Homo sapiens: one gene and its partners. The protein of the gene in region 1 binds, or shares a complex with, the protein of each later gene. Links are inferred from orthologs where the notes say so. Each region holds a gene or a part of one and is shown in the gene's direction. Other genes may lie near its edges. The genes, in order: PTEN, MAST2, SNTG1 and PARD3.

Region 1 (8,149 bases):
GGAGACTCCGTCTCAAAAAAAAAAAAAAAAAAAAAAAAAAAAAAAATTTCTGCCTACTCTATGAAGCACCTGGTAGGTGTCCCAATATTTTCTGGTATATGGGAATTACCTTTTTCTATTATTGGAAGGTCTAAAAAGCAAACAATGTGCTCCATATGGCTAGAGTTAGTATTAAGGGGACCAAGTAGAATAATTGGTAGCTAGTGTTAGCCTGGAGACTAACATAGTCAAAGCTGTCTTGTCATGTTATGTCTTTTTTATTTGTATTGCTCCACGGTCCAAGACAAAATTTCTGAACGCCACTTGGACACAGTGAGTACCTGGTCTGCTCTATTGTTCTCAGGAGCAACCAACTCAACCCTTATTTCTCTGAGAATGATGATTTCATACAGCACATCTCTCTACCAAGATGTGAAAGATGACACCATGGCATCTGAAATAGCTTCAGGAGAGATTTGGGACATGGGAAGCTTGTAGACAATAATGGAAAATTCTCTTTTAGAATATAGTTACTTGTATGACCCACAGTAGCGCCTTTTGGAGAATGTCTTAAAATTATCTTTATTGAAAGAACAATAATGTTTGTTATTAGGATAAATGAAATAAGGGGAAAACCTCAGACCCTTGGAACAATGGGTTTACATTCAATCCAATGATTATTATGTTTTTATATTCTGTATTATTTAGAAAACAGTAGTTAAACAGACAGAAATACAGAAGATTGTTTAAAAATTAAAGCTATTGAGTTAGATCCCTTTTTGAAAGGTCAGCGTATGGGAGATGAGAAAGGCACTATAGAGATCAGAGTGTTTACACAAAAGACATCTTAGCAGATGACCTACAAAGAGCACATCAAGTATTTATATCATCCACATCAAGTTGCTGGTCATTTCGCTTATCAAAGAAAATAAGAAAGAAATTTTCTTTCGACATTATTTTGGTGTAGTAACAATAGAGTTTTGGAATCAGCTGTTAGAAGCGATAATTAAAGCTAGTTTACCATGCTTACTAATCAATCTACATAGTCACCCTGAAGCTTTATATAATTGTCCCTTTGTTACAAGCTTCTACTTCTCCCTATGGTATTCTGGTTCTGAATCCAGACAGGTAAAGAACTAAGTATGGCCGGGCGCGGTGGCTCACGCCTGTAATCCCAGCACTTTGGGAGGCCGTGGCGGGCAGATCACGAGGTCAGGAGATCGAGACCATCCTGACCAACATGGTGAAACCCTGTCTTTACTAAACTACAAAAAATTAGCCCGGCATGATGGTGTGCGCCTGTAGTCCCAGCTACTCGGGAGGCTGAGGCAGGGGAATTGCTTGAACCTGGGAGGCAGAGGTTGCAGTGAACCGAGATCATGCCACTGCACTCCAGCCTGTGAGACTCCGTCTCAAAAAAAAAAAAAAAAAAAGAAAAAAAAAAAAAGAACTGAAGTGCTTGGAGACCAGTGTATTGTAATATCTATACAGCCAAGCAGGTATTTTCAACTGAACTTTAAAAAAGTACTATTTTTGAAACTTTCTTTAGTTTAGATAGGGCCAGCCATTTGGGTAGAAAGGAAAAGAAAAACAAAAAATTGGAAAAGGATGCATCAGTATTTCTTTCAGAAACAACTTAACACTAGGAACAGAAGGAGGATTTTATTCACCAACTCCTAATAACCACCTGATGTTGCTGTTGGGCTGGCCAAATATCTGCCAACATTGATGATCCTTTCATTCACCACTAGAGAGAAGTAGAGGGACCTGATGTTTAGAGAAGCAGTAAAACCCATTTCCCATTTTCTTTCTTCAGCCGGATGGAAGTACTTGGAGGCTGGTCTCATATTCTAGCACTTTAGTGCTGGTGATGCAGATTATCTCTGCTCCAGAGTAACTCTGTGCCATGGAATCCAAGAGGATTCTGTCGCACCAGGACAGGAATGCACCCTTGTTTCATTTGCTTCCATGAAAGCAGATTTCAGAGATTCTCAGATGCTATGAGACTAATTGTCACTTAGGGTAGGCTCCAGGGGAGGGACAGAGAAGGGCAGTGCTAATAACAGGGACTCTGGAGACAAGATCAGCAATCTAAGAAACAAATGTGAGACATTTTACCCCTCCCTAATCTACTCCCCTTTTAAAAGTTCATCTTCATTTTCCCTTTTTCTACCACGCAGTAATTGATAATTAAACACAGCTCTGGTTTTTACCATGCAATCTAGTAGAACACCTAGACATCAGGAACTCCTTATCTTTGGTTATTTATACAATAATGAAATCTGTAGTTCACGCTAGGCTGTGTGGACAGTATCTGCATCTCTGGAAATCAACTGGAGGCCTTTCTCTTACTCTTTTCCGGTTGCTTTCCATTTCCTTTTCCACTGTGGTCCTTGCCTTTCCCAAGCTGACCAGAACTATGCACAAAACCAGTCTTCAATAAATATCAACACTGAAGCTTCAGCAGGTTGTTAACTCCTGCACAGCTATCTTAAATGCTGTATATAAGTGCAAAGTTTTATGGAGCCTCAGAGGTCTCTAAGAACACTGTAAATATCCCAGGTTTAATTAGTAGTCCCGGAGTTAGGTAATGGCCTGTGGCTTTCTGCGCTAGGTCTCTTGAGGTTTCTAGTCTTCAGAGGTTGCCTGCAACTATGATGTGCACATATACAGTACTCTTTCTCAAATACAGCATAAACCCTCTTTAGACTTTGCTAGGCACTTACAATTATTGAACACACATGCAGATTGATTCTCATTCTCTCAAAGTTTGAAAAACAACTCAGTGCTTCAACCTAGGTCTCGTTAGATATTTTTTGACTCAAATTGTCGTCTGTAGTTCTACTTCCTAAGGGAAATGAAAAAACAATAAATTCCCAGACTGGTGTTGATGCTCATTCTCTTTAAGCGGGTCGACTACTTGCTTTGTAGATCCTTGACGGGTGGGGTGCGGGGTAGGAGTGCGATCCAACTCTCAGCATTTCCGAATCAGCTCTCTCACGGTGACAGGTCAGCCCAATCGGGGCTGTAAACAGACTTGACAGGTTTGTTCTGGGCTGACGGCCATTGACTAGGTTCTCAGACCAGATAAGTCACTTGGCTGAGTCCACAGTAGGTGGGGCGCGCTCACCAGCTCAGGGGTAGTGACTGGACGTTTGTTGCAACATCGGAGAATGCACGCTCTGGGCTGCAGCAGGAGATACCCTCAAGCACAGAACCAAAAGGGTTCACCCTAAGCGGCAGGGCATCAGCGATGGAGAGGCCCGAGAGCCCTAGCGCCCAGCTCCTTTTCCCACGTTTGGGAAGGCGCAGAATAGGTCGATGTAGAGCAAGGAGTGAGTCTCAGGTCTCAGTCCTTTGGCTTGCTCTTAGGGTAGCAGGCGAGGAGTGGCACCAGTTTGGGGACTCTCTCCCCGCGTTCTGTAAGAATCGGCGGCAGCCAGCAGGCGGGGAGGCGGGGGCACGTGTTTGGATGTGGGTGCTTGTGTAACCAGTTCCCCAAGCGCCAGCCCCGACAGCGCTCCTTCGGGAGGCTGGTCCGAGCCCCTGTTTCCGCCGCGGCGCAGGAAGGGTTGGGGTTCCGCTGCCTGCACCAGGCAAGAGCACCCCGAGCAAAGGAAGAAGACGACTTGCCTCCGGAGCTATCACTGGGGAGTGGGAATTTGGAAAGTTCCCCAACTAGGGACACACGTGACCTCCTTCGGAAAGTAGTTCCGACTGTGGCCCGTGTATCCTTCCACCTCCTTTTGAACCCTCCTAGGTCTCCTCGCCCCGCCCACTCGCTGGGCTGCAGCTTCCTACCGTTCCGTACTTTCCACTCAACCCGGTAACCCCAAACGTGCACGGTCCGGCCGGGGCGCGCGGAGCCTGGCCCCGGGCGATCCATCCTGCCGGGTTTTCACGGCGGCCAAGGGGGGGCGGGGCTAGGTGGTCTCTGAGAACCGAGCTTGACTCCGACGCCGCGAACCGACCTGGAGCCCGAGGGGAAAGATGCTCGACTCTCTTGGGGGCACCGGAGCGGGCGCAGGAGAGGCCTGCGGGGTGCGTCCCACTCACAGGGATCCTCTTTCAGTTCATTTAGATAGGTGCCCTTTGGGCCCTTGAAATTCAACGGCTATGTGTTCACGTTCAGCACGCTCGGCTGAGAGCTTTCATTTTTAGGGCAAACGAGCCGAGTTACCGGGGAAGCGAGAGGTGGGGCGCTGCAAGGGAGCCGGATGAGGTGATACACGCTGGCGACACAATAGCAGGTTGCTCTTTGTGCTAAGACTGACACCATGAGGACACAGATTTGGGGGAAGGGGGAATCTCTAGGCAAAGGCTGTTACAGTCAAATCTCTGCGAACGATTGTGATCCGACAGCGGTGCAAAAGGAAAGAGCGAATGCAGTCCACGCCGCGGAAATCTAGGGGTAGAGGCAAGGGGGGAGGGTATTCCCCTTGCAGGGACCGTCCCTGCATTTCCCTCTACACTGAGCAGCGTGGTCACCTGGTCCTTTTCACCTGTGCACAGGTAACCTCAGACTCGAGTCAGTGACACTGCTCAACGCACCCATCTCAGCTTTCATCATCAGTCCTCCACCCCCGCCCCACAACAGCCTACCCTGCCTCCGGCTGGGTTTCTGGGCAGAGGCCGAGGCTTAGCTCGTTATCCTCGCCTCGCGTTGCTGCAAAAGCCGCAGCAAGTGCAGCTGCAGGCTGGCGGCTGGGAACCGGCCCGAGCAAGCCCCAGGCAGCTACACTGGGCATGCTCAGTAGAGCCTGCGGCTTGGGGACTCTGCGCTCGCACCCAGAGCTACCGCTCTGCCCCCTCCTACCGCCCCCTGCCCTGCCCTGCCCTCCCCTCGCCCGGCGCGGTCCCGTCCGCCTCTCGCTCGCCTCCCGCCTCCCCTCGGTCTTCCGAGGCGCCCGGGCTCCCGGCGCGGCGGCGGAGGGGGCGGGCAGGCCGGCGGGCGGTGATGTGGCGGGACTCTTTATGCGCTGCGGCAGGATACGCGCTCGGCGCTGGGACGCGACTGCGCTCAGTTCTCTCCTCTCGGAAGCTGCAGCCATGATGGAAGTTTGAGAGTTGAGCCGCTGTGAGGCGAGGCCGGGCTCAGGCGAGGGAGATGAGAGACGGCGGCGGCCGCGGCCCGGAGCCCCTCTCAGCGCCTGTGAGCAGCCGCGGGGGCAGCGCCCTCGGGGAGCCGGCCGGCCTGCGGCGGCGGCAGCGGCGGCGTTTCTCGCCTCCTCTTCGTCTTTTCTAACCGTGCAGCCTCTTCCTCGGCTTCTCCTGAAAGGGAAGGTGGAAGCCGTGGGCTCGGGCGGGAGCCGGCTGAGGCGCGGCGGCGGCGGCGGCACCTCCCGCTCCTGGAGCGGGGGGGAGAAGCGGCGGCGGCGGCGGCCGCGGCGGCTGCAGCTCCAGGGAGGGGGTCTGAGTCGCCTGTCACCATTTCCAGGGCTGGGAACGCCGGAGAGTTGGTCTCTCCCCTTCTACTGCCTCCAACACGGCGGCGGCGGCGGCTGGCACATCCAGGGACCCGGGCCGGTTTTAAACCTCCCGTGCGCCGCCGCCGCACCCCCCGTGGCCCGGGCTCCGGAGGCCGCCGGCGGAGGCAGCCGTTCGGAGGATTATTCGTCTTCTCCCCATTCCGCTGCCGCCGCTGCCAGGCCTCTGGCTGCTGAGGAGAAGCAGGCCCAGTCGCTGCAACCATCCAGCAGCCGCCGCAGCAGCCATTACCCGGCTGCGGTCCAGAGCCAAGCGGCGGCAGAGCGAGGGGCATCAGCTACCGCCAAGTCCAGAGCCATTTCCATCCTGCAGAAGAAGCCCCGCCACCAGCAGCTTCTGCCATCTCTCTCCTCCTTTTTCTTCAGCCACAGGCTCCCAGACATGACAGCCATCATCAAAGAGATCGTTAGCAGAAACAAAAGGAGATATCAAGAGGATGGATTCGACTTAGACTTGACCTGTATCCATTTCTGCGGCTGCTCCTCTTTACCTTTCTGTCACTCTCTTAGAACGTGGGAGTAGACGGATGCGAAAATGTCCGTAGTTTGGGTGACTATAACATTTAACCCTGGTCAGGTTGCTAGGTCATATATTTTGTGTTTCCTTTCTGTGTATTCAACCTAGGGTGTGTTTGGCTAGACGGAACTCTTGCCTGGTTGCAAGTGTCAAGCCACCGATTGCTTTCTTAGGCTATCTATATGGTCTCTTCCTGAGGGCTATTGTCCGTTAATACAGAATACAGTACACTGTTAGTGGATTAGCGAGCTCGGTAATCCGGTCTCCTAAATGAACAAAAAAGTAGACGCTTTTTGAGGTTGAGCATATTTCGATTAAATCTTGGCTTAGGCCCTAGATCAAGGGTTTAGATCAGAATAAAATGAAAATTAGTGTTGCACGTACGCATATTGCATCAGAATCTTGCAGTGATTGTTTTAGTTTCCTGAGTTGCATTGATAGATTCTTTTAAAATATGACTGATTTGCATAACTTTAGAAGCAGAATCATTTTCAGTATATATGGTGCACATTGAGGGCAAAAAGTAGTTTTGTTAATGTTTAAACTTAAGTTACCTACAACTTTGAACTGTATGTAGAAGTTTTGTAGTTTGAAGTCAATAGTGCCATAATATACCTTATAAGGCGTTCTTACTAGATCTTTGTTATATTTACCTTTTTCTCTCCCTATGGGGTGATGTAGGATAGTGCTTGAAATTTGCACTTCAGTAGCATTTAATGTTCAGTGCTCTTGTCATAAACATAGAATGGATATTGAGTAGTTTCTGATCCCAGATGGTAATGTGTAGGTTCAAGGGTATTGTGTGTAGCAAGTGAAGATTGCAGAAATAAAACTTCAGTTCATGCTTGAAATTTAAGTATTGTTGTGATGCCAGAATTGCTGCTCACCGTTTTTAGGTTTCAGGTCCTCTGACACCTTTTGGTATCGTTAATTTTACTGATTTGTGTAGAATGTCAGTTGTATTTTACCAGCTAATATCTAGAAATGCTGGCAAGAGGGGTTTACTCCAGCTTTAGATTGTAGGTATGTTAGCTTTTTTCATACAGTGTATTAAATTTACTGAGTCAGCTTGCTGAATAAGACAGAAGCCCAAGAATTTTAACAGTGTGTAGCTTTAGTTGTCTAAAAGTTAGGCCTTCGGGCTTCAAAAGTTAGTGGTCATCGAAAAGCATTAATCTTTGCAGTTTCAGGTACAACACATTGGTTTTGATTAGGGATGGGGATGGGGCCCTCTTTTTGCAGAATGGGGAAAGTATTGACAGGAATTGAGAGCTATTGGTAGGCCAGTGTATAAGGTATGTGAAAACAGAATTAAGTTATTGGTCTGAAGTGACTGAAGCATTTAGGCTCTATCAAGGCCTAAAATTTGGTAATATGAGTTTGGTAATGCGAATTGTGGCAGTGGACAATATTTAGTTAAAATTATGTAATTGCATAAGTACTAGCACAGTATTTTTAATAAAAGTTATTTCTTAGCAAATGTCAGTTGCATTTTGTCTAAAGGTAGAGTGACACTACAGTGTCTATATGTCCTGCTAAAAATTGTGGGGAATATTTTTTTTTAAGACAGCGTTTATATCGGGAGAGGTTTTATTCCGTTGGATTATGTTAGCTGCATATAAATGTGCACAGTTAATTTTGCCCAAGTTTTTGTTTTGAAATGAATGTAAAACTTACTGAAGAAGTAGCTTCCCAAAATTTAGTTTTCTGTTAAGCCAAAAATATTATTTTAAAAGAGTATTTGCAAATTTTGAAGTTGACATTAATTGAGAATGTTACTAAGGCTAAACTGGACCCGCTTGCCCAGAAGATAATTATGGAAAAATTCTTTTGTGACTTCCAAAGCAGTCTACTATTAGCATGAATTACTGACAGTCATCCAAATATATAGGAACAAAAAATTAAATGTTTATGTAACTTTGAAAAAAAAGCCTTTGAAGAAAATAATTGAATGCTGTCTGGGAGACAGATTTCTTTCAGCACTTAAAGTACATAACACACTACTTTTACTTTTCCCACTTGATTTTAAATTATCAGGGTTATTAAGACCTTAAAATTATTTTACCAGGTTTTTACATGTGAGCTGTGACATGACTGGCATTTTCTTTGATTTCAGCGTATGTTGGTCTCTACACATGAAATTTGTGTGACTTAAAACTTTCTCTAA
Region 2 (6,199 bases), on another chromosome or scaffold:
TCAGCAGGGGTGTGTGAAGGAGGGATGGAACCGACTGGTTCAAATTCCTAGGTTTCCGATGCCAAGGATGCTTTATGCCACTTGGGAGGTACGGCTGCCAGAGCCCATCCCCAGCGCATCCCCTGTGCCCACAGGTGTACAGCAGCATGGAGCGGCTCTCACTGCTCGAGGAGCGCCGGACACCACCCCCGACCAAGCGCAGCCTGAGTGAGGAGAAGGAGGACCATTCAGATGGCCTGGCAGGGCTCAAAGGCCGAGACCGGAGCTGGGTGATTGGCTCCCCTGAGATGTGAGCACCCAGAGTTCACCCAGGGTGGGCGACACAGCTATCCCTGCATTGTCACAGATCATGGGAGAGATTCCGATGCCAGGGAGGAGTGCAGGTGGCAGGGAGGGGGCATTCACAAGGGTGGCTCCTGGAGGAATGTCTGCGGAGGAAAGTTCTGTTACTATAACCCTTGTGTGCCCCTAAGGAGACCTGGCAGGAGGAGGGGGACCACCTGGGTCACTCACCCCAGGCCTTGTGTCTCATAGATTACGGAAGCGGCTGTCGGTGTCTGAGTCATCCCACACAGAGAGTGACTCAAGCCCTCCAATGACAGTGCGACGCCGCTGCTCAGGCCTCCTGGATGCGCCTCGGTTCCCGGAGGGCCCTGAGGAGGCCAGCAGCACCCTCAGGAGGCAACCACAGGAGGGTATATGGGTCCTGACACCCCCATCTGGAGAGGGGGTATCTGGGCCTGTCACTGAACACTCAGGGGAGCAGCGGCCAAAGCTGGATGAGGAAGCTGTTGGCCGGAGCAGTGGTTCCAGTCCAGGTATGGCCCAGTGGGCGGCCAAACGACCTAAGCTGGAGGATACTGCAGGGCAGGGAGGCTCAGCGGCATCGCGGGTCTCACTGCTTACTTGGGCCTACAGCTATGGAGACCCGAGGCCGTGGGACCTCACAGCTGGCTGAGGGAGCCACAGCCAAGGCCATCAGTGACCTGGCTGTGCGTAGGGCCCGCCACCGGCTGCTCTCTGGGGACTCAACAGAGAAGCGCACTGCTCGCCCTGTCAACAAAGTGATCAAGTCCGCCTCAGCCACAGCCCTCTCACTCCTCATTCCTTCGGGTGAGGCCCCTGGGGAGCTGGGATAAAACTCACAGGAAGGGCCTTGTAATCTCTAGGCCTTGGGAGGGTTCTGCACGTGGCAGGTGTGTGTGTGTGTGTTAAGCACAGATCTGACTGTGGTCTCTGAAGGTGTGTATTGGTGTCTGGGGTTGTGTATACATGTGCCAGAAAGCAGGACAGCACCATGTCACAAGTGCAGGCTTTGGGGTAGAGAGCTCACACTCAAATCCTGGCTCCATCACTAACAGGCTCTTGACCTTGAGCAAGTTGCTTAACTTCTCTAAGCCTCAAGTTTCTTATCCAAAAATGTGGATATAATAGAGGCCAGCTGATAGGTTGTGACATTTAAATATATATGACAAGCTTATATAGTCCCTGATACACACATAAATGCTAGCTGCCATTTCTCATCACCACCACCGTCTCTTGGGGTCTGGACACGGGAGAGGGCTTCACAGGTCAGGGGCTGTGGGGAAAATGGACCTAGGCTCAGGCTCTGTCTGTGACTAGAGTTGTGCTGACATCAACAGACTGGACCAGGGGCCAGGCCAAAGCCCTCTGACCCACTAAGTCCTGGCTTCTCCTTCTCCAGAACACCACACCTGCTCCCCGTTGGCCAGCCCCATGTCCCCACATTCTCAGTCGTCCAACCCATCATCCCGGGACTCTTCTCCAAGCAGGGACTTCTTGCCAGCCCTTGGCAGCATGAGGCCTCCCATCATCATCCACCGAGCTGGCAAGAAGTATGGCTTCACCCTGCGGGCCATTCGCGTCTACATGGGTGACTCCGATGTCTACACCGTGCACCATATGGTGTGGGTATGTCTGACCATCCAGACCTGCTGTCTCCCTGCTTCATCATCCTTCCAGCTTCCCCTTTGTGGAGCCCATCTGTCCCTGCTCGGGGGTCAAAGGGTGGTGGTGAAGGGGCTCACAGCTTAATGTCCAGAACCAGGCCCCATACTTCGTGTTCAGGCTCCAGTCTGAGTACTGTTCTCTTCCTGGCACAGCACGTGGAGGATGGAGGTCCGGCCAGTGAGGCAGGGCTTCGTCAAGGTGACCTCATCACCCATGTCAATGGGGAACCTGTGCATGGCCTGGTGCACACGGAGGTGGTAGAGCTGATCCTGAAGGTTAGTGCTGGGCGTGCTGCCTGCATGGTCCCTGAATGACCTCAGCCTGTGAGTCTGTGATGGCAGTTAGGGGAGTGGGTGAGTTGGGTGCACACACATCTACACCGAGTATGGATGTAGGTACACACAGGCCGGGCGCGGTGGCTCATGCCTGTAAATCCCAACACTTTAGGAGGCTGAGGCAGGTGGATCACTTGAGACCAGAAGTTTGAGACCAGCCTAGCCAACATGGTGAAACCCTGCCTCTACTAAAAATACAAAAAAAAAAAAAAAAAAATGCCTGGGTGTGGTGGCTCACGCCTGTAATCCCAGCACTTTGGGAGGCCGAGGCGGGTGGATCACCTGTGGTCAGGAGTTTGAGACCAGCCTGCCCAGCATGGCAAAACTCTACTAAAAATAACAAAAATTAGCCAAGCGTGGTGGTAGGCACTTGTAATCCCGGCTACTCGGGAGGCTGAGGAAGGAGAATTGCTTGAACCTGGAAGGCAGTTTGCAGTGAGCTGAGGTCATACCACTGCACTCCAGCTTGGGAGACACAGCAAGACTCTGTTTCCAAAAAAAAAAAAAAAAATTAGCCGAGTGTGGTAGCACATGCCTGTAATCCCAGCTACTTGGGAGGCTGAGGCAGGAGAAGTGCTTGAACCCAGGAGGCAGAGGTTGCAGTGAGCTGAGATCGCACCACTGCACTCCAGCCTGGGTGACAGAGTGAGACTCTGTCTTAAAAAAAAAAAAAAAAGATGTAGGTACACACAGAACTTGAATGTGGCACAACAGAGAGTTTTCTCCACAAGGCAGTACCCTCCCTGACTAAGGCCCAGGGATCCTTCTGAGCTGTGGGTAGGGCTGCAGAATGGGACGGATTAGCCTGTTTTCTACCTTCTTACCCCAAACCACTCTGGGGCTCCAATGGGAGCCATTTCCTCATCTGTAAAAACAATAATATAGGCCTGTGGTTCAGATGTGTTGGTGCAGGGACAAAAAGCTGGAGCTGTGGTATAGCCATGCCAGAAGGGAAGGATTGGGGGAGGGGAGGGGCAAGAATATGGCTCCAGCTTAGCCTAGGCCTCATGCTCTGCTCCCCAGAGTGGAAACAAGGTGGCCATTTCAACAACTCCCCTGGAGAACACATCCATTAAAGTGGGGCCAGCTCGGAAGGGCAGCTACAAGGCCAAGATGGCCCGAAGGAGCAAGAGGAGCCGCGGCAAGGATGGGCAAGAAAGGTGAGCCAGGCGCAGTGAAGAGGGTTTTCTCTGAGCCACATGAGTGCTGGTACGTGGTGGGTGCCTTGGCCCTGGGGGTCCAGTGTGTGCTGTGCTCACTGCACCGACTCAGCCTTTGACCCTTATCCCCGCAGCAGAAAAAGGAGCTCCCTGTTCCGCAAGATCACCAAGCAAGCATCCCTGCTCCACACCAGCCGCAGCCTTTCTTCCCTTAACCGCTCCTTGTCATCAGGGGAGAGTGGGCCAGGCTCTCCCACACACAGCCACAGCCTTTCCCCCCGATCTCCCACTCAAGGCTACCGGGTGACCCCCGATGCTGTGCATTCAGGTACGAAGGGCTCCCTGCAGATCAGTGACAACCCCTGGGAAATAGGAAAGTTCCTAGGCCCTGTGTGCTTCTGACAGATCCCACTCTGAGTCTCTCATTTAGCCCACCCCCTGAAAGATCCTGTAGTCTTGGGGAGGAATTAATTGATGGGGAAGGGGGTAGCTTGGTTTCTGGGACATAACAGGGCTAAGCCCTGTCTTGCCCTTGAGTCACTTCTAACAGCTAACACTGCTCTGCTTTTGTCTGTCTGTCTGTCTGTCTCTGTACAAAGTGGGAGGGAATTCATCACAGAGCAGCTCCCCCAGCTCCAGCGTGCCCAGTTCCCCAGCCGGCTCTGGGCACACACGGCCCAGCTCCCTCCACGGTCTGGCACCCAAGCTCCAACGCCAGTACCGCTCTCCACGGCGCAAGTCAGCAGGCAGCATCCCACTGTCACCACTGGCCCACACCCCTTCTCCCCCACCCCCAACAGCTTCACCTCAGCGGTCCCCATCGCCCCTGTCTGGCCATGTAGCCCAGGCCTTTCCCACAAAGCTTCACTTGTCACCTCCCCTGGGCAGGCAACTCTCACGGCCCAAGAGTGCGGAGCCACCCCGTTCACCACTACTCAAGAGGGTGCAGTCGGCTGAGAAACTGGCAGCAGCACTTGCCGCCTCTGAGAAGAAGCTAGCCACTTCTCGCAAGCACAGCCTTGACCTGCCCCACTCTGAACTAAAGAAGGAACTGCCGCCCAGGGAAGTGAGCCCTCTGGAGGTAGTTGGAGCCAGGAGTGTGCTGTCTGGCAAGGGGGCCCTGCCAGGGAAGGGGGTGCTGCAGCCTGCTCCCTCACGGGCCCTAGGCACCCTCCGGCAGGACCGAGCCGAACGACGGGAGTCGCTGCAGAAGCAAGAAGCCATTCGTGAGGTGGACTCCTCAGAGGACGACACCGAGGAAGGGCCTGAGAACAGCCAGGGTGCACAGGAGCTGAGCTTGGCACCTCACCCAGAAGTGAGCCAGAGTGTGGCCCCTAAAGGAGCAGGAGAGAGTGGGGAAGAGGATCCTTTCCCGTCCAGAGACCCTAGGAGCCTGGGCCCAATGGTCCCAAGCCTATTGACAGGGATCACACTGGGGCCTCCCAGAATGGAAAGTCCCAGTGGTCCCCACAGGAGGCTCGGGAGCCCACAAGCCATTGAGGAGGCTGCCAGCTCCTCCTCAGCAGGCCCCAACCTAGGTCAGTCTGGAGCCACAGACCCCATCCCTCCTGAAGGTTGCTGGAAGGCCCAGCACCTCCACACCCAGGCACTAACAGCACTTTCTCCCAGCACTTCGGGACTCACCCCCACCAGCAGTTGCTCTCCTCCCAGCTCCACCTCTGGGAAGCTGAGCATGTGGTCCTGGAAATCCCTTATTGAGGGCCCAGACAGGGCATCCCCAAGCAGAAAGGCAACCATGGCAGGTGGGCTAGCCAACCTCCAGGATTTGGAAAACACAACTCCAGCCCAGCCTAAGAACCTGTCTCCCAGGGAGCAGGGGAAGACACAGCCACCTAGTGCCCCCAGACTGGCCCATCCATCTTATGAGGATCCCAGCCAGGGCTGGCTATGGGAGTCTGAGTGTGCACAAGCAGTGAAAGAGGATCCAGCCCTGAGCATCACCCAAGTGCCTGATGCCTCAGGTGACAGAAGGCAGGACGTTCCATGCCGAGGCTGCCCCCTCACCCAGAAGTCTGAGCCCAGCCTCAGGAGGGGCCAAGAACCAGGGGGCCATCAAAAGCATCGGGATTTGGCATTGGTTCCAGATGAGCTTTTAAAGCAAACATAGCAGTTGTTTGCCATTTCTTGCACTCAGACCTGTGTAATATATGCTCCTGGAAACCATCTTTATGTCTTTTGCTTGCTTGTTTTCCTTCGGTCAACCCACATGTAACTAGGTCCTGTGTTGCTGCTGGGAATATAGTGGTGAATAAAACAGTTTCCACCACCAGGGGAGGGCCACCTAACCCAGCTTGACTTCCCAAAGGCTTTGACATTTGAGCTCAAACATGAAGAATAGATGATAGGTAGTAGTTTGCTGGGTGTGGAAGAGTGGAGGTTGGCATAAGAAAGGCTGTCCAGGCAACGTTTAGCACATGCAGTATACCTGGCATAGTCAAGGAACCAAAGATAATTCAAAGTAGAAACGGGTCTGGCAAGTGAGGCAAGGGCCATGTCTAATGGTCTTCCAGGAGATTTGACTTCGTGAAGGTGATGGGGAACCAGAAAATACCATGTAGCAACTAAAATTCCTTCATAGATAAGGGCACTAAGACTTTGATGCCCATGGTAATACAGTAGCTTGGGTAGAACGGGGGTTAGAACGTAGGTCTCCCTTGGACTCCGGAACTCACATCTCTCCTAACTAGGATTGCCTCAGCCAGGAAATGAGGA
Region 3 (7,188 bases), on another chromosome or scaffold:
CTTTGTCAGTAGGTTTGGCTGTTCACTTAGTTAGTGCAGTTTACTTCTAGTTGTCAACACAAGCTGCCCCAGGCCTTAGGAGTCACTGCACAGCCCAACACTATGCCTCCCAAACAAATCCCCTCCTGTACTGGTGGGGGAAGGGGGTGAAGTGAAAGATGGGGTGAGCCTGGTTCCAGCATGCCAATGGCTGGAGCCCATGCCATACTTGATTCTCGGTTCTGGCTGTGGGAACCTCTTCCCTGCTTGAGCACCAGATCCCCAGGATACTGTTAGAGCCTCTTTAATGACAAAGGCTGCCACTGCTGCTAGTTTTCAGGACTGTGCACAGCTTGCAAAGAGCTAGGATCAAGAATGGTGTTCTGTTGTAGGTTCCAAGGTCTCGGGAAGTGCATGGGACACTTCCCAGAGCAGGTACTTCTTACAGTCTCCCAGCCACATCCCAAGGTAGATCTAGGGCTTAGAAAAGTCATGGTGCTCTACCGTGGCCTGAATTATATGATTCTATAGTGGGAAATTGGACCACAGAAAGATACTCACTCACCCTCTCCCATATTGGGAATTTACTCTCTTCTCATTTTCAGCCAGTCCCACAGCCACACAGGCTGACTGTTCTTCTTTTTCTGGTCAGATTTTGGAGTTTCTTCGTGTGTTACTGTTGAACTCCTGTGTTCTCTCTTGGATAATATGTTTGTAAACAAAAAAGTTACTGAGGTGGATCTTAATCAATTAGAGATTTATTTTGCCAAGGTTGAGAACATGCCTGGGAAAAAGAAACACAAATCACAAGGAGATCTGTACCCTGTGCTTTTTTTTAAAAAGGGTTCTGGGAACTTCAATATTTAACAGGGAAAAAGCAAGCAGGAAGAGGAAGAAAGAAAAAAAGTCTGGGTAGGCAATGAGATAAGTGGTCACATTCTTGTGAGGATCTTACTAATGAGCAGAAAAGCTACATTTTACATAAAGTAAACATGAAATTACAGCTTTTTGGGAATGAAAGGAAGGCAGTTTTTTCATGACTAACTACCTAAACTTAGCCCTTTGGTATAGTGAGTTTGGGGTCCCAATATTTGATTTTGCTTTCATATGTGCAAAGTGTGATTGTCTACACACCATTGTCATTCTTCTAAGTGGATGAAGTACCCTGGAAAAGCATCTAGTCAGCCATCTTGAAAAAAAAACCTGTTGTTTCTTTGTAATATTGCTTTATAAATCTGAGAGAACTTGGAACAAATCTAACAAAATAGAAGATACTTCTGGAGAAGTGAGAAAATTGAGAAAAATGCAACTGATGAGTTCTTGATATGTTTAGCTATTATTATTATCATTACTATTATTAAATGATACTTTCCAGTTGGCAAAAAAGTATTCTGGAGGCTATTCTTTCTACTGGGGCATAAGTCAAACTATGACAAAAGAGAAATGCATGCAGAGAGCAAGCCATAGAAGGCAAGTTAGGAAATGATACGAATATTTATCTGTATTTATTTTATTGAATCAATACTGACAACAAAAATTTCCAACATTAAGTACTTCCAAGTATTAGATACTAAGCAAAGAATTAAATATAGTATCTTATTTAATCATCAGATCAATTAATTATTTCCACTTTAGTGATGAGTGAAGGAAGCTATATATATGGTAATCAACTTGACAAGGATTACCTATTAATAAATAAAAGAGAGGAGATTCAAATCAAGACAGAATTCTGAAGCTAGAACTTTTGTTCTTATCACCTTATAACAGCTCCTGCATGTGTGTTAGAGAGAGAATGAGGGTGAGAAAGAGGAATATATACATTCTTATTTAAACCTATGTGGATAATCGTGTAAATACTCCTTATTATACTAATACTTCTAGTCAATGCCAGTCTCTAAGAGTATCTTATTTAGTTTTTCAGTTAGTTATATATATATTATTACTTGCATATAACTTGATAATGACTGCAACCGTAAAGGAACACAATCTTTTGAAATGTTATAGGCAGCAAAGGTAGAAACTCTAGTAAAAGAAATCTAGTGTCAATGATTTTAGATGATTATGTTGAAAGTAGATCTTTAAAATGATTGAGCTATAGTCACTTTTCACTAAATTTCTGATAAAGGAACCCCTGCTTTTTCCAAAGTTTCTCCTCCTCCCACCCATCCACTCTTAGCCATCTAAAGCTTAGAGTCTATGCTGCCCCCTTCTCACTTAACTCTCCAATATCTTTTCCTGGCAGGTGCATTCTATGAATTTCTTAGCAGGATCACCTGGTCTTTTTCAGGCTTGCACCAGGTTGCTCTTGCATTTGTCTTTAAGTCCTTGATGGTACTACAGTCTCTCCCTACAATACAACTTTCCCCCTCCTACTTTCCCTCAAGATGATTTATCGTTCCTTATTCTGCTTCCTTAGCATGTTACCTCTATAGCACTGTCATATGCTCGTTATTTTAACATATTTCTCTCCCTCACTAAAATGAGACCTGGGTGCTCAGATGCCATTTGCAGTGTGAGTCAGTTCATGAGAAGTATATTATAAATAACAACAGGAAATGGCAAGAAGTTTTCAGAGATGCTGAAACTATATTTGCAGAGTTGATTAGAGGATGCTTTGTCTGAGAGAGAGTCACGACTTGGGTAATATAACAGAAGATCTTAAATTGAGTTTTAAAAGAGCAAAGGAGTAAAGTTTTGCTAAGAGAATAGAAAATCTTACATGAAGTCCATTTTAAGATCCTATTGCTACATGTGATTTATGAAAAGGAAAAAATAACAAAATTTTCTGACTAATAATGACATTAGATAATATTTTTTATTATAAGGAAAATGAAGGGCAATTTAATAAACCATAAAATTGGCAAGGTTTCTGGAAACTGCAACGTTTAGTTATAGATTTTTGCCAATTTATCAATTTAAAAAGCTAAGGTAGATGTTGAAATATCTGCAGTATAAAGAGAGGGCATACTAAAATTTTTGCTATAGTAGCTTGTCATTATACTGTGTTCAAGTCCAAAATTTATAACCAGATCAATCATCCCATGTCCTTCCCTAGCTTCAGCTCTCAATGTTTCTGCCTCCTTTTCTTTGAATTTCTGAAATGCCTGACTTGGCCCCAGCCAGTCCCATCCACTCTCTGGAAAGAACACCCTTTTTCTATACTTTATCTTTGATATTCTACTCGTTTTCAGCCACTGTTTAAAATTTACTTCCTAGAGAACATTTCTCTAGCTTTTCAATCTATTGTGATATAATACCTTTTTCTTCCTCTTCTTCTTCTTCTTCTTCTTCTTCTTCTTCGTGTTCCTCTTCCTCTTCTTCTTCCTCCTCTTTTTCTTCCTCTTCTTCTTCTTCCTTCTTCTTCTTCTTCTTTGCCTTCCTCTTCCTCTTCATCTTCCTCTTTTTCTTCTTCTTTTTCTTTTTCTTCTCCTTCTTCTCCTTCTTCTTCTTCTTCTTTCTCTTCCTCTTCCTCCTCCTCCTCCTCTTCTTCTTCTTCTTCTTCTCCTCCTCCTCCTCCTCCTCCTTCTCCCTCTTCTTCTTCCTCTTTTTGAGATGGAGTTTCCCTCTGGTTGCCCACGCTGGAATGCAGTGGCACAGTCTTGGCTCACTGCAACCTCCTCATCCTAGGTTCAAGTGATTCTCCTGCCTCAGACTCCCACGTAGCTGGAATTACAGGGATGCACCACCATGTCCGGCTAATTTTTGTATTTTTATTAGAAATGGGGTTTCACCATGTGGGACAGTCTGGTCTGGAACTCCCCAACCTCAAGTGATCTGCCCACCTCGGCCTCCCAAATTGCTGGGATTACTGACATGAGCCACTGCGCCCAGCCTCTTATTTTTTTTATAATGGCATTTACAATAATTTGTACTAATATATTTACTTGTGTAGTTATTATCTCTCATTGTTCCCTCCATAGATATTATAACCCCAAAACTACTAAAAAGTATTTATAATTTATCATTAGATTGTACTCTCAAACATATTATGTTTTCATTTTTTTCTCCCTTCAGACAGAGTAGGAAAATCAATAAGCACAGCATTTATCATCCTTTTAGCTTTCTGAGCATCTACTGGCAGCAAGGGTCAGAGCTAAATTCTACAACCCTGGAAGTAAATGCCTTCCATTAGCTCTCTTCCAGCAATTATAAGAATGCAAGCAGGAAACAATGAAAATAGTTATTATTTTTTAAACATTTGCCAAAGCAGAGAATTCCATCTAACATTTTGGGTGTTTAATAATGATACACTTACATCCCTCCTTATGAGAAATGATTACAGATACCAGTGATTAACCCTTTGACAATTTTCAGTACACTGCATAGATATAGCATATATACAGTCATTTAATAACTGAGATATATTTCAGGAAATGCCTCTCAGTTAGATGGTTCCACTGTTGTACAAACACCACAGAATTTGCTTGCACAACCTGAGACAGCATAACGTACTGCACAGCGAGGTTATACAGTACAGCCTATTTCTCCTAGGTTACACACCTGTATAGCATATGACTGTATTGAATACTGTAGGCAAAAGTAACATAATGGTAAGTAGTTGTTTAAACACATCTACACATAGAAAAAGTAAAGTAAAAGTACAGTCTAAAAGATTTAAAAAAAAAATGATACACAGATACAGGGCACTTACCATGAATGGAGTTTGCAGAATGGTAGTTGCTCTGGGTGAGTCAATGAATGAGTGATGAGTAAATGTGAAGGCCTAGGATGTTACTATACAGCACTATAGACTTTATAAATACTGAGCACTTAGACTACACTACATTTATAAGAAGTATTTTTTTCTGCAATAATAAACTAAGCTTAGCTTACTGTAACATTTTTTACTTTACAAAGTTAATTTTTTCAACTTTGGCCTTTTTTGTAGAAGTGCTTAGCTTAAAACACAAACACATTATGTAGCTGTACAAAATTATTCTATATCCTTATTCTCTACATTTTTTTTCTACTTTTAAATTTACAAATTACTTTTTTATTTTTGGCTTTTTAAAATTTTTATAAAAAATAAGACAGAAACACACACATTAACCTTGGCCTGCATATAGTCAGGATGAGTTCCATCATCACATCTTGTCCCACTGGAAGGTCTTCAGGGGCAATAACACGCATGGAGCTGTCATCTCTTATGATAATGATGCCGTCTTCTGGATACCTTCTGAAGGAACTGCTTGAGCCTGTTTTATAGTTAACTATATTTTTAATAAATAGAAGGAGTACACTAAAAAAATAGGAGTACAGTAAATACAGTAATATTTACTGTATTACTATAATACAGTAAATACATAAACCAGTAACATATTCTTTCTTATCATCATTATTATTATGTAGCATACATCATAATCGTATGTGCTAGACTTACACAGCTGTCAGCACAGCAGGTTTGTTTACACCAGCATGACCACAAACACAAGAGTAATGCATTGCTCTATGACATTACAACGGCTATGACATTGCTAGGGGATAGGAATTTTTCAGCTCCCTTATAACCTTATAGGATCACCGTCGCATATGCAGTTCATCATTAACCCAAACATCCTTATGCGGCACATGACTGTATTTAAAATGCTATATCTGACATGTTGCATTGGGTTACTCTGTTTCATAAATTATTTGCTTCACTTTTTTTTCTCATGTTAATGTCTCTTAAATTGGAATATATGTAAATTTGTGAACACTTCAGTTGAAAACTTCTGGTAAGACCAAGAAATTGCCAGCATCAAAGTCGTTTTTTTGATACAATGAAATACAGTTACACAAGTAAGGTAAATAATGCGTTTTTTTTTAAGCAATATTATTGCTGTAGACAAATTAGACTCATTTTCTTTTTCATTTCTCATGGAGAAGAATATTTTGGTTTGCTTATAAAGTTCCTTAAAATTTACAAACATGTTCACAAGCATTATTTAATTTCAACATCATAACAGTTATGTAAGGAAGGGAAGAGATAGTGTGTCACCCCTTTGTAGAGTAATAAACCAAGTCTTGTATGTTAAATGCTTTGGTGGTTATATTGTTAGTAAGAGATGAAGCCAGAAACCCTAACTTCTATTTTATGGACATGCTTCAGTGTAAAGACAGAGAAGTCATGTGTTGGGGCTTTGAAGCCCGGAGTTCTGGTATAATGTCTAATGAAGACTTGGTGAATTCGCAGAGTGTTGTCTTTTTACCTGTGGCTTCTGCACCTTGGTCCAGTCAGGAATGGCCAGGTTAGCAATGTGAAGTGATGTGTGCCAGCCTGTGTAACTCCAGGTTTTCACCAGGACAGTGACCTGCTGGACCGACGGAAACAGTGCTTCACCGTGCAGTCTGAGTCTGGGGAGGACCTGTACTTCTCAGTGGAGCTGGAAAGTGACCTCGCCCAGTGGGAAAGAGCCTTCCAGACAGCAACCTTTCTAGAAGTAGAACGGATACAGGTGAGAGTCTGTGGGACTGCAGGATGTGTGGCTCCCTCAGATGCATGACCACTTCCCTAGAGTTCTAATATCATTCCAAAGTAGTGTAAAAATACAGTTCTGGGAATCTTGACCTCATATACATTCTATAATTAGCCATTTTTGTTTAGTGACTAGTAATACAGCTCTGAATAAAATTTTAATTTTTCCACGACTTGATCTTTCCAGGCTATTTCCTACTACTAATTAAAAATATATTTCTAATTTTAATTAGACATTACTCTGACTTAAATCTAATATAGAAAATACTCTGATTTAATGAATTGTTGACAAGGTCACTTCCTGTTCTCCAAATATGACCTCCTAATTTCCAGCCTGTTGGCGTCATTTACTCACAATGCTCTTTCCCTTTGCCTCCATCCTTCAAAGCCACACAGAGTTTTTGAGACTTTTTATCAAAGGTCATATCATCCAGGAACATGTCCCTGATTTCCAGTCCACCCTGCCTAATGCTTGCCAATACTCCTTCTACAACTATCCTGTTCAAACAACTCTTCTTCTCACTTTTGAACACAATATAATGTACTTTTCTGGTTTTTTTACAGATAAGAAAACACAAACTAATCAATTGTATTCATACTACTCATGAAAAGCAATTACATTTTTACATGAAGTCATTAACACATACAACAATAAAAATCATAAAAGTAATACATCTGATTAGAAATACAATATAGGAAATAGATTTTAAAATAGTGTAGTTTAGTGATAAAATTTATACTGTGTTTTCTACTTA
Region 4 (7,758 bases), about 53 Mb from region 1:
ACGAAGCACCTCTTCATATCACTGGACTTTCCAAATCCTGCCTCCAGTCAAGGTGGCCCGCCAGAAAGTGAGTGGCTGAGGTGGCTTTATTCCACTCTGCTGCACATTTGTCTTTAACAGAGTTGAGTGTTAATATCACCTGCTCTGCCAGCCTCCACCTTGTTCTGCCAACTTTCATGGACTTCACCAACAAGCTACCTCATTCTTCAGCTCTGGGACCTGGGAAGGAGGGAGATATTTGACTGGGGACTTGGGCTCTGAGTGGTGGGTCATGGCAAACATGGGTGCTTACTTTCTGCAGGGATGGGCCTTTTCTGGCATTCTGAGGCTGGGTGACACCGGGGCTTCTAGAAGTGGTGATCTCAGCCTGGACTCAAGTTTTTGCAAAGTGGGCTCTCTCAGCAGGGCAGTGCTGACATACCTTCCAGCAGTGTCTGGGAACCAGAACAGGAGAACGAAAATGCAGAGAAGGGCCAGGCATGGTGGCTCACACCTGTAATCCCAGCACTTTGGGAGGCTGAGGTGGGTGGATCATTTGAGGTCAGGAGTTTGAGACCAGCTTGGCCAACATGGTGAGACCCTGTCTCTACTATAAAGTATAAAAATTAGCCGGGCGTGGTGGTGCACGCCTGTAATCCCAGCTACTTGGGAGGCTGAGGTGGGAGAATCCCTTGAACCCGGAAGGCAGAGGTTGCAGTGAGCCAAGATCGTGCTACTGCACTCCAGCCTAGGCAACAGCAAGACTGCATCTCAAAAAAAAAAAAAAAAAAAAAAAAGGCAGTGGATACTTTGGTGATGGTTGCTGATGGACTGGTTGAGGGCAACCCTGGAATATTTTGAAGGGGGCTCTATTTGGGCAGGTGAGGACTTGGATATGTATTCCCAATGTGTCATGAAATTTTATGAATTACAAAAAAATTTTCATGAATTTTGACTCAAGACACCAAAGGCTCTGGCATCTAGAATTATGCAGTACTAGTTTTTCATCCATTATTAATATAAACGGAATCACTGCATCTAGATAAACTAGGTAGATTTAAATACAGCTGTAAGGCTTTATCTGGTTGGTGGAATCAGTGTTATTAATCCTCTGGATCATATTTTTTAAAAACATCCATATCCTTATTAGGTATTGAATAGTTAAAGGAATTGATGTACATAAAATGGTATCCACATATCCTGATGTCATCTCTGTTATGAAAGCTTCCCCCTTCTCTAGTACCGCCATAAACACTTTGCTGGCACTGAATATTTAATGTGTTGAATTATAGTTATTGGAATAGCTATCTTATTCTGACCTCTAGATTGTCCTTCTTTTACTCACCTTTATAATTCTGTAATATTTAGCCAGTGCTTCCTGCAAGGAAGGTCTTTACTAACTGCATGTGGAATCAAATTTAAGTGAATTGAGTGCAGGCCTGAGAGTCAGAGCTGGAGTTTTTGGTTGTAGTCCTAGCCCAGTCACTGGAAAGTTGTATCACCTGGCTAGTCATTTCTTTGAGCCTTGGTCTTCTCCTGTCCTCCTCATCTCTCCTGCCTCCTCCACTGTCATCATTTGCTATCCTGTGCTGGACTTTGTTACCCTCTGCCTTCATTACGGTAACTGGACTGTACTACGCTATACATTCCCATGTGGCAGCGTGGCAGCATGTACTGTTTTTTTTTTTTTCTTTTGAGACAGAGTTTCATTCTTGTTGCCCTCGGCTCACCGCAACCTCGGCCTCCTGGGTTCAAGCGATTCTCCTGCTTCAGCCTCCCGAGTAGCTGGGATTACAGGCATGTGCCACCATGCCCGGCTAATTTTGTATTTTTAGTAGAGACGGGGTTTCTCCATGTTGGTCAGGCTGGTCTCGAACTCCCGAGCTCAGGTATCTGCCCACTTCGGCCTCCCAAAATGCTGGGATTACAGGCGTGAGCCACCATACCCAGCCGTACTGTTTTCTGATACATTATTTTATTTAACATTCATAACTTATGACCAGGTGCCGTGGCTCACACCTGTAATCCCAGCACTATGGGAGGCTGAAGCGGGAGAATCGCTTGAGGACAGGAGTTCAAGACCAGCCTGGGCCACATAGTGAGACCTTATCTCTACAAACAATTTAAAAATTAGCTGGGCATAGTGGTATTTGTCTGTAGTCTTAGCTGCTCTAGAGGCTGAGGAAGGATTGCTTGAGCCTGGGAGTCTGAGGCAGCAGTGAGCTAAGATTGTGCCATTGCCCTTTAGCCTGAACAACAGAGCAAGACTCTATCTCAAAAAAAAAGAAAGACTGACTCATAACCTATGAGATCTATGAGATGGATATGGATATGATAAGCTCTACTTCTCTACTTTTCAGCTGATAAAACGGGCTGGAGAAAGAGTGACTGTTGTGTCTAAGGCACTAGTAAGTGGCCAAATATGGATCTGAACCTAGATCAGTGTGATGTCCTATGTACTCTGGTTATTACTGAAAAATGACTTTCGATTAGAATTATTTTGAGAAAGCCCCACTCTAATTTATTATACTCAAGCTAGTATACCCCTCTGAACTAGTGTAGCATCAAAACTAGTATACATTCTCTGCCGCGCGGTGGCTCACGCTGCAATCCCAGCACTTTGGGAGGCTGAGGCGGGCGGATTGACCAGCCTGGCCAGCATGGTGAGACCCTGTCTCTAACTGAAAATACAATAATTAGCTGGGCGTGGTGGCGGGCACCTATAATCCCAGCTACTCGGGAGGCGGAGGCAGGAGAATCATTTGAATCCAGAAGGCGGAGGTTGCACTGAGCCGAAATCACGCCACTGCGCTCCAGCCTGCGCAACAGAGCGAGACTTGGTCTCAAAATAAATAAATAAATAAATAAATAAAAATAAATACATAAATAAATGTAAAAAACACAAAATAAAATAAAGTAGTATACATTCTAAACTAGTAGTATACTCTCCCAATGCATGAAAACAGAAACAACACCTATAATTATCAGTAATTGTTGTTGTGGATCCAAGTATCTATGTAAGAAGCAAAAAACCCACATCAACAGTTGTTGTCATCGTTGTCACAAACTTAATTACTGGCTAGAAATGTCTAGTGCTGCAGCCAAACAGCAGTAGGAGGAGCCTTTCCCATGGCTGAGTGGAAGGAGGGAAACCTAGACTATTTCTGGGTCTGCCTTGAGCTTTCTCTGCCGCCTTGGGCAAGTGACTTTGGCCCTGGGTCAATGTCCTGGAGTAAGATGGGGCTAACACCACTGCACTGATTTGCTGGGACAGGTGGTGGAAAGTGGTGGTCCAGGGCTGGGAGAGGAGAGGAAGGGCAATGTTTCCTAGGAGAAACTGCACTATGCTGGGGCAGCTGCGGTGCTGCAAAGCGCAGGGAGTGTGGCAAGCGGACGAACCTCGTGTCTTGTTTCCTTGTTTTAAGATTGGAGGTGGAGTGGGATGGATGGTCGATCGCCAGCTCTTCCAGCTCTTAAGTGCTCAAGTTCTGCGCCAACCCAGGGGAGCTTGATTGCTTTCACGTGTCTTGGAAACAACTGGCAAAAAAGAATTTCACATAGTCTGGAAAGGGCTTGGGACAGGGACCACTCTTTGCAGACATTTGTCATTCTTTAAACATAATGACATACATTTATTAAGGACTCATAGTCCATAACTAAGACAAAATGAGCTTCAGTTACGTTCCCTAACTCGGTCCACGTTCCTTTAGAACGTCTCAAGCCCGCATGTCACTCATCGCGGAGTCGCAGCCTTCCCCTGGGTTCGGGCGTCTGCGTTAAGCGCCGGCACATCGTGGGGATCCCCGCGTGAGATTTCTCTGCGCCGTCGGAATAGACTGTTCACGGATTCGCGTTAGGATTCCTTATGCTGCAGAACTTCAAAGAAATAAATGTATCAGAATTGCGATGTTTAAGTTCTAATCTATTTAAGCGGGTGGGTCAGCAGAGGGTCAACAGGAAACTTCAAGGTAAATAGTGGCCTCTGGAAAAGGCCCGGTCGCTCACGGCTTCCCCACTGTCTCCCCAGAGCAGACTATTAATTCTTGCGTTTCAGGCAGAACTGCCGCTGCCGGCCCTGCAGCAGAGCTAGGGAGCGGGCAGGGCAGAAACCCAGCCGAGCAAGCTGCAGGCTCGAGTCCCCGCGGGCGGAGAGGCTCGGGCTGGAGCCTCCGGGGCGGTGAGGAGGGGACTCACCGCACTGAGCACAAACTGCTTTCCCCGGGAGCGCCTGCACCCAAAACCCTCCAGTTCGAGGAATGGGATTAAAAGTGACAAAGAAAGGGGAAGGGGGGCTCCGTGGAGACTTCTGGAGGCGTGGAAGGGGCGTCCCCGAGGAGGGGCGACGCAGCCCTGCAGGGTGCTGGGCGGGCGGGGTGAAGGGGGCTGGGGGGCGCCTGGGCCAGGGCTGGTGGGGGCAGACGGCCGCCTGCCCGTGCTGGCACTGGGGCGAGGGGTCCCGCGCCCCCGGAGGGAGGGAGGGAGGGAGGGAAGGAGGGAAGGAGGTCGGCCCCCGAGGGCGGTGGCGGGGGCGCGAGCTGCGGTCCTGCGCTCCGCCCCGCGCGGGTAGCCGGCCGCGCCTCCCCCTGCCGCATGTGCGCGGTGTTGTGTGCCCTGCCCTGCTCCTCCCCCTCCCCTCCCCTCCCCTCCCCTCCCCTCCCGCCGTCCCCTCCCCCAGCGGCCCCGAGCGAGCGCCAGCGCCACACAGCCCCGGGCAGCCGCCGGCGAGCGCGCCGCGACGCCGAACAGGTGGCCGGAGGCTGCGGGCGCCGCGGCGGGGAGAGGCGAGGCAAGCCCCGGGCGAAGCGAGGCGAGGCGAGGGCGGCCGGGCCGGGCATGCGAGCTGAGCGGCCCCCCGGCGTCGCCGCCGCCTGCCCGCGCCCCTAGCCGCCCGCGCGCCCGAGTCCCCAGCGGCTCCTCCGCGCCCAGCGTCCTCGGTCCCGGCCTCGGCTGCTCCGGCTGCGCTCGGCGAGGGGCGCGGGCCCGCCCGCGGCGGCGGCGGCATGAAAGTGACCGTGTGCTTCGGACGGACCCGGGTGGTCGTGCCGTGCGGGGACGGCCACATGAAAGTTTTCAGCCTCATCCAGCAGGCGGTGACCCGCTACCGGAAGGCCATCGCCAAGGTGAGGGGCCGGGGGCGCGGGCGGGGAGGGGGCGGCGGCGGGGACGGCGCCGGGATCAATATGGCGCTTCCTGGAAGGGGGAGGAGAGGCGCAGGGAGGCGGGGAAAGGGAAAGTGCGGCCGGTCGGGCCTCGCGGGCGCCCCCCGCCCCGGACTGCGGGCGCCAAAGTTCTCTGCGCGGGCCGGGGCGCAGCCTCTGGGACACCCAGCCGGGTCCCGCGGCCCCCGCCCTCACCCTCCGCCCGGGAGCTCCGGCCTCGGTAGCGCGGGGCGAGCCGGGCAGCGGCGCATAGGCCGGCCCTGGGCGCCTCCCCGGAGTCTGCAGACCCAGCCAAGCCCCGAGCCAGCGCGCGGGGGGCGCAGGCCGGGAAATCCAGCCCCAGGCCTTTCCCGGCTCCCAGGCCCCGGGGGCACAGGCCGGGGACTGGGAACTTTTGGTGTGAGGAGAGTTTCGTGACTGCCCTTCCGACAGAGGCGGGTTGCGAGCCTTCTGCCTCCTCTCCCTTACTCGGGCGGGGGCGGAACAGCGGCGGGGGGCTTTTCCTCCATGTCCCCTGCTGGTAGGGGCCGGCAGGGGCGGCCCGTCGCGTCCGGGGGCTGCAGGGTTTGGGGAGTCGCCGGCTTGGGGTCGGGGAGGCGTTCCCGGGAGGGCCACCGCTGGCACTTGGCACTCGCTTGCGAGCATTTACTGAGCTGATCCCACTTGCTGGGCTCTGGAAAGCACAACCTTGGAAGAGTCGCGGAATGAAAAGTTTTCCTGCGAGGACCTCAGCTCCTACCTATCCCGGGCTGGTTCCATGTGGCTGGGCTGCGGGGCCGGGCCTGACTTGGGAGTTGAGTGGATTTCCCTTTTTCCTGGTGGACTGATAACATTGTCTCCACTTCACAGCATTCCTCTACTGTGTGTCAGAAGTGAAAAGGCGTTTTGTTAAATTGTTTTACCGACTGTGTCTGTGTTTGACAACAGCCCACGCTGAAGTTTCTCCCAAGCACCCGGGGATATATTTCCTTTGTAGTAGAGTCCTCTTTGGTGGGGAGCGCATTCGTTTGGGTGCAGTATTTCCCATTTGTTCCCGACAGTGGCCTGGCCCCTGTGGGCTTGGGGGCTGCAAATGACGTTGGAAAGTGGCTTGGTCAGCCCTATTGAGCGTACACAGGGTACTCCGGTGGCATCTTCAGTTCTCTCAGAAATTAAGAAGTAAAAGCTTTTTAGACTTTTGTTTTGCTTTTAGTATATATTGGAAAAAATAGCATAAATTTGGCCTTTTAAAGATAATTTTGGGGGACGTTTGGAGACCCGACACAAGGATGGAAGACGTTGGCTTTAGTAGCTCTGTTATGTTCCTTACAGTTGAACTCTTTTATTGAAAATCAAATAAAATTAGTGGGAATTGGGCACCTGTTTATCTTGCAAAGCTGACAAAGGGAAAGAAAACCATCTAAATGGACATTTAGCATTTTTAAGTGTTGTTTATGTGTGACAGTTTATGCTTTAAATGTTCCAAAAGAGTACTCAAATTGTTCAGGCACTCTGGAAACCAACAAAACAAATTGTGCAAGGAAAGAGAAATAAAGTAATATGCACTCTGCAGTACGTCTAGGCTCCTGAATAGGAAGAGGGTGGTCAACATTTTCTTTCACTTTACTAATTTTATGTGATTAAAATTGTTTTACCTACTGTGTCCCATGTTTCATCCTGCACAAAATAGACATAGGCTGAACTGCCTGTTTGGCAGTAGTTCAAATGTAGTTGTTCCAGGCATTCGTTCCACAGAAATTCTGAAGCTTTGACTGTGTCCATGGCACTGTTCTGGGTGCTGGACATCTAAGGGACCCACTGGCTGTGAGAAGCTGAGCAAGAGGCTGCGGGGTCCTCCAGGTGAAGGAGCTGGTGATGACATGGGGAGAAGAGGTGGCCTCTGGGATGCTGGGTGGCTAGAGTGCAGGGCCTTGGTCACGGACCTGGTCCTTATTAACGATTAGCAGTGGTTGTTTCACAGGGCGTAGAAAAGGGAGTGCAGTTTTTTAAGGGTGTCTGGGAAGGTGTCACAAAGAGAAAAGGGGCCTATGAGCTGAAGGAAGGGAGGGTGATAGTGACATGGGAGTTGGAGATGAGAGGGAGGGTCAGAGATGGGTCAGGGGTTCCAACACTTACATGCTCTTTAAGTACAACTTAGAGTTCTGTAGGTGAATTTTAACGGGGGCTTTGCAGTATACCAAGTTCAGTCATTGGATCCCAAGATTGTTGACCCTTAAATGTTGCCAGAGCTGGAGTGTCTTCTAGGTCTCCTTTTTCTCGTTTTTCTTCTGAAATTGCTAGACAATGATTAAGATTAATTTTTAGTCTTTCTTACTACTTTTCCCATTCTATATTAAGTGATGAGGAAGTGTTAATATGTATTTAACACTGTTTTAACTTTTATTCTCTATCTGTTCCTTATCCGTATTGCCTAATAGAACAAGAGAAATTCTGTGTGAAGAATTGGGTGGCTGGATAGTTGTGGAGTGGTGTTTAGGTTGCTAGGTGACATGTGGCTTGATGAGCTCCCATCTGGTGGGGAAAAGTGTGGGCAGATCATGTTTATGGCTTTGGATAATAACCAACCAAGCCAAAAATAAAAAATAAAAAGGAAAAGAGAAAGGTCCCAACTCTCAAATCA

What was found.
Region 2: the proteins of PTEN (region 1) and MAST2 are in contact, whole or in part, in an NMR structure (PDB 2KYL), measured with the Homo sapiens proteins. Residues at the interface, in NP_000305.3 of Homo sapiens: Pro391, Phe392, Asp393, Glu394, Asp395, Gln396, His397, Thr398, Gln399, Ile400, Thr401, Lys402, Val403; in NP_055927.2 of Homo sapiens: Lys1112 (codon at 1,852), Lys1113 (codon at 1,855), Tyr1114 (codon at 1,858), Gly1115 (codon at 1,861), Phe1116 (codon at 1,864), Thr1117 (codon at 1,867), Leu1118 (codon at 1,870), Arg1119 (codon at 1,873), Ala1120 (codon at 1,876), Ile1121 (codon at 1,879), Arg1122 (codon at 1,882), Val1123 (codon at 1,885), Tyr1124 (codon at 1,888), Met1136 (codon at 1,924), Trp1138 (codon at 1,930), Glu1141 (codon at 2,130), His1170 (codon at 2,217), Val1174 (codon at 2,229), Ile1177 (codon at 2,238), Leu1178 (codon at 2,241), Leu1191 (codon at 3,363).
Region 3: the proteins of PTEN (region 1) and SNTG1 are in contact, whole or in part, in a crystal structure (PDB 7PC7), measured with the Homo sapiens proteins. Residues at the interface, in NP_000305.3 of Homo sapiens: Asp395, Gln396, His397, Thr398, Gln399, Ile400, Thr401, Lys402, Val403; in NP_001274742.1 of Homo sapiens: Gly67, Phe68, Gly69, Leu70, Ser71, Ile72, Lys73, Gly74, Glu77, His78, Ser85, Lys86, Ile87, Ser88, His118, Val122, Leu125, Arg126.
Region 4: the proteins of PTEN (region 1) and PARD3 are in contact, whole or in part, in an NMR structure (PDB 2K20), measured with the Rattus norvegicus proteins. The link is inferred for Homo sapiens from one-to-one orthologs. Residues at the interface, in NP_113794.1 of Rattus norvegicus: Asp393, Glu394, Asp395, Ser398, Gln399, Ile400, Thr401, Lys402, Val403; in NP_112514.1 of Rattus norvegicus: Ala599, Gly600, Leu601, Gly602, Val603, Ser604, Val605, Lys606, Gly607, Asn608, Arg609, Ser610, Lys611, His614, Lys622, Ile625, Met659, Leu662, Arg663, Met666.

Annotation. Positions count from the first base shown.
Region 1 is NC_000010.11:87,858,623-87,866,771, forward strand, and holds the start of PTEN (phosphatidylinositol 3,4,5-trisphosphate 3-phosphatase and dual-specificity protein phosphatase PTEN), read left to right. Parts: upstream 1-5,032; 5' UTR 5,033-5,327; coding exon of another isoform or gene 5,328-5,481; 5' UTR 5,482-5,482; coding exon of another isoform or gene 5,483-5,847; coding exon 5,848-5,926; intron 5,927-8,149. Other genes in the region: KLLN (killin), read right to left, coding at 3,329-3,865; MLDHR (PTEN upstream open reading frame MP31), read left to right, coding at 4,937-5,032. UniProt on the Homo sapiens protein: Dual-specificity protein phosphatase, dephosphorylating tyrosine-, serine- and threonine-phosphorylated proteins.
Region 2 is NC_000001.11:46,030,473-46,036,671, forward strand, and holds the end of MAST2 (microtubule-associated serine/threonine-protein kinase 2), read left to right. Parts: intron 1-134; coding exon 135-289; intron 290-534; coding exon 535-818; intron 819-918; coding exon 919-1,113; intron 1,114-1,705; coding exon 1,706-1,932; intron 1,933-2,123; coding exon 2,124-2,246; intron 2,247-3,329; coding exon 3,330-3,466; intron 3,467-3,600; coding exon 3,601-3,794; intron 3,795-4,065; coding exon 4,066-5,594; 3' UTR 5,595-5,650; downstream 5,651-6,199. UniProt on the Homo sapiens protein: Appears to link the dystrophin/utrophin network with microtubule filaments via the syntrophins. Phosphorylation of DMD or UTRN may modulate their affinities for associated proteins. Functions in a multi-protein complex in spermatid maturation.
Region 3 is NC_000008.11:50,698,340-50,705,527, forward strand, and holds part of SNTG1 (gamma-1-syntrophin), read left to right. Parts: intron 1-6,234; exon of another isoform or gene 6,235-6,260; coding exon 6,261-6,413; intron 6,414-7,188. UniProt on the Homo sapiens protein: Adapter protein that binds to and probably organizes the subcellular localization of a variety of proteins. May link various receptors to the actin cytoskeleton and the dystrophin glycoprotein complex.
Region 4 is NC_000010.11:34,812,217-34,819,974, reverse strand, and holds the start of PARD3 (partitioning defective 3 homolog), read left to right. Parts: upstream 1-4,678; 5' UTR 4,679-4,979; coding exon 4,980-5,099; intron 5,100-7,758. UniProt on the Homo sapiens protein: Adapter protein involved in asymmetrical cell division and cell polarization processes. Seems to play a central role in the formation of epithelial tight junctions. Targets the phosphatase PTEN to cell junctions.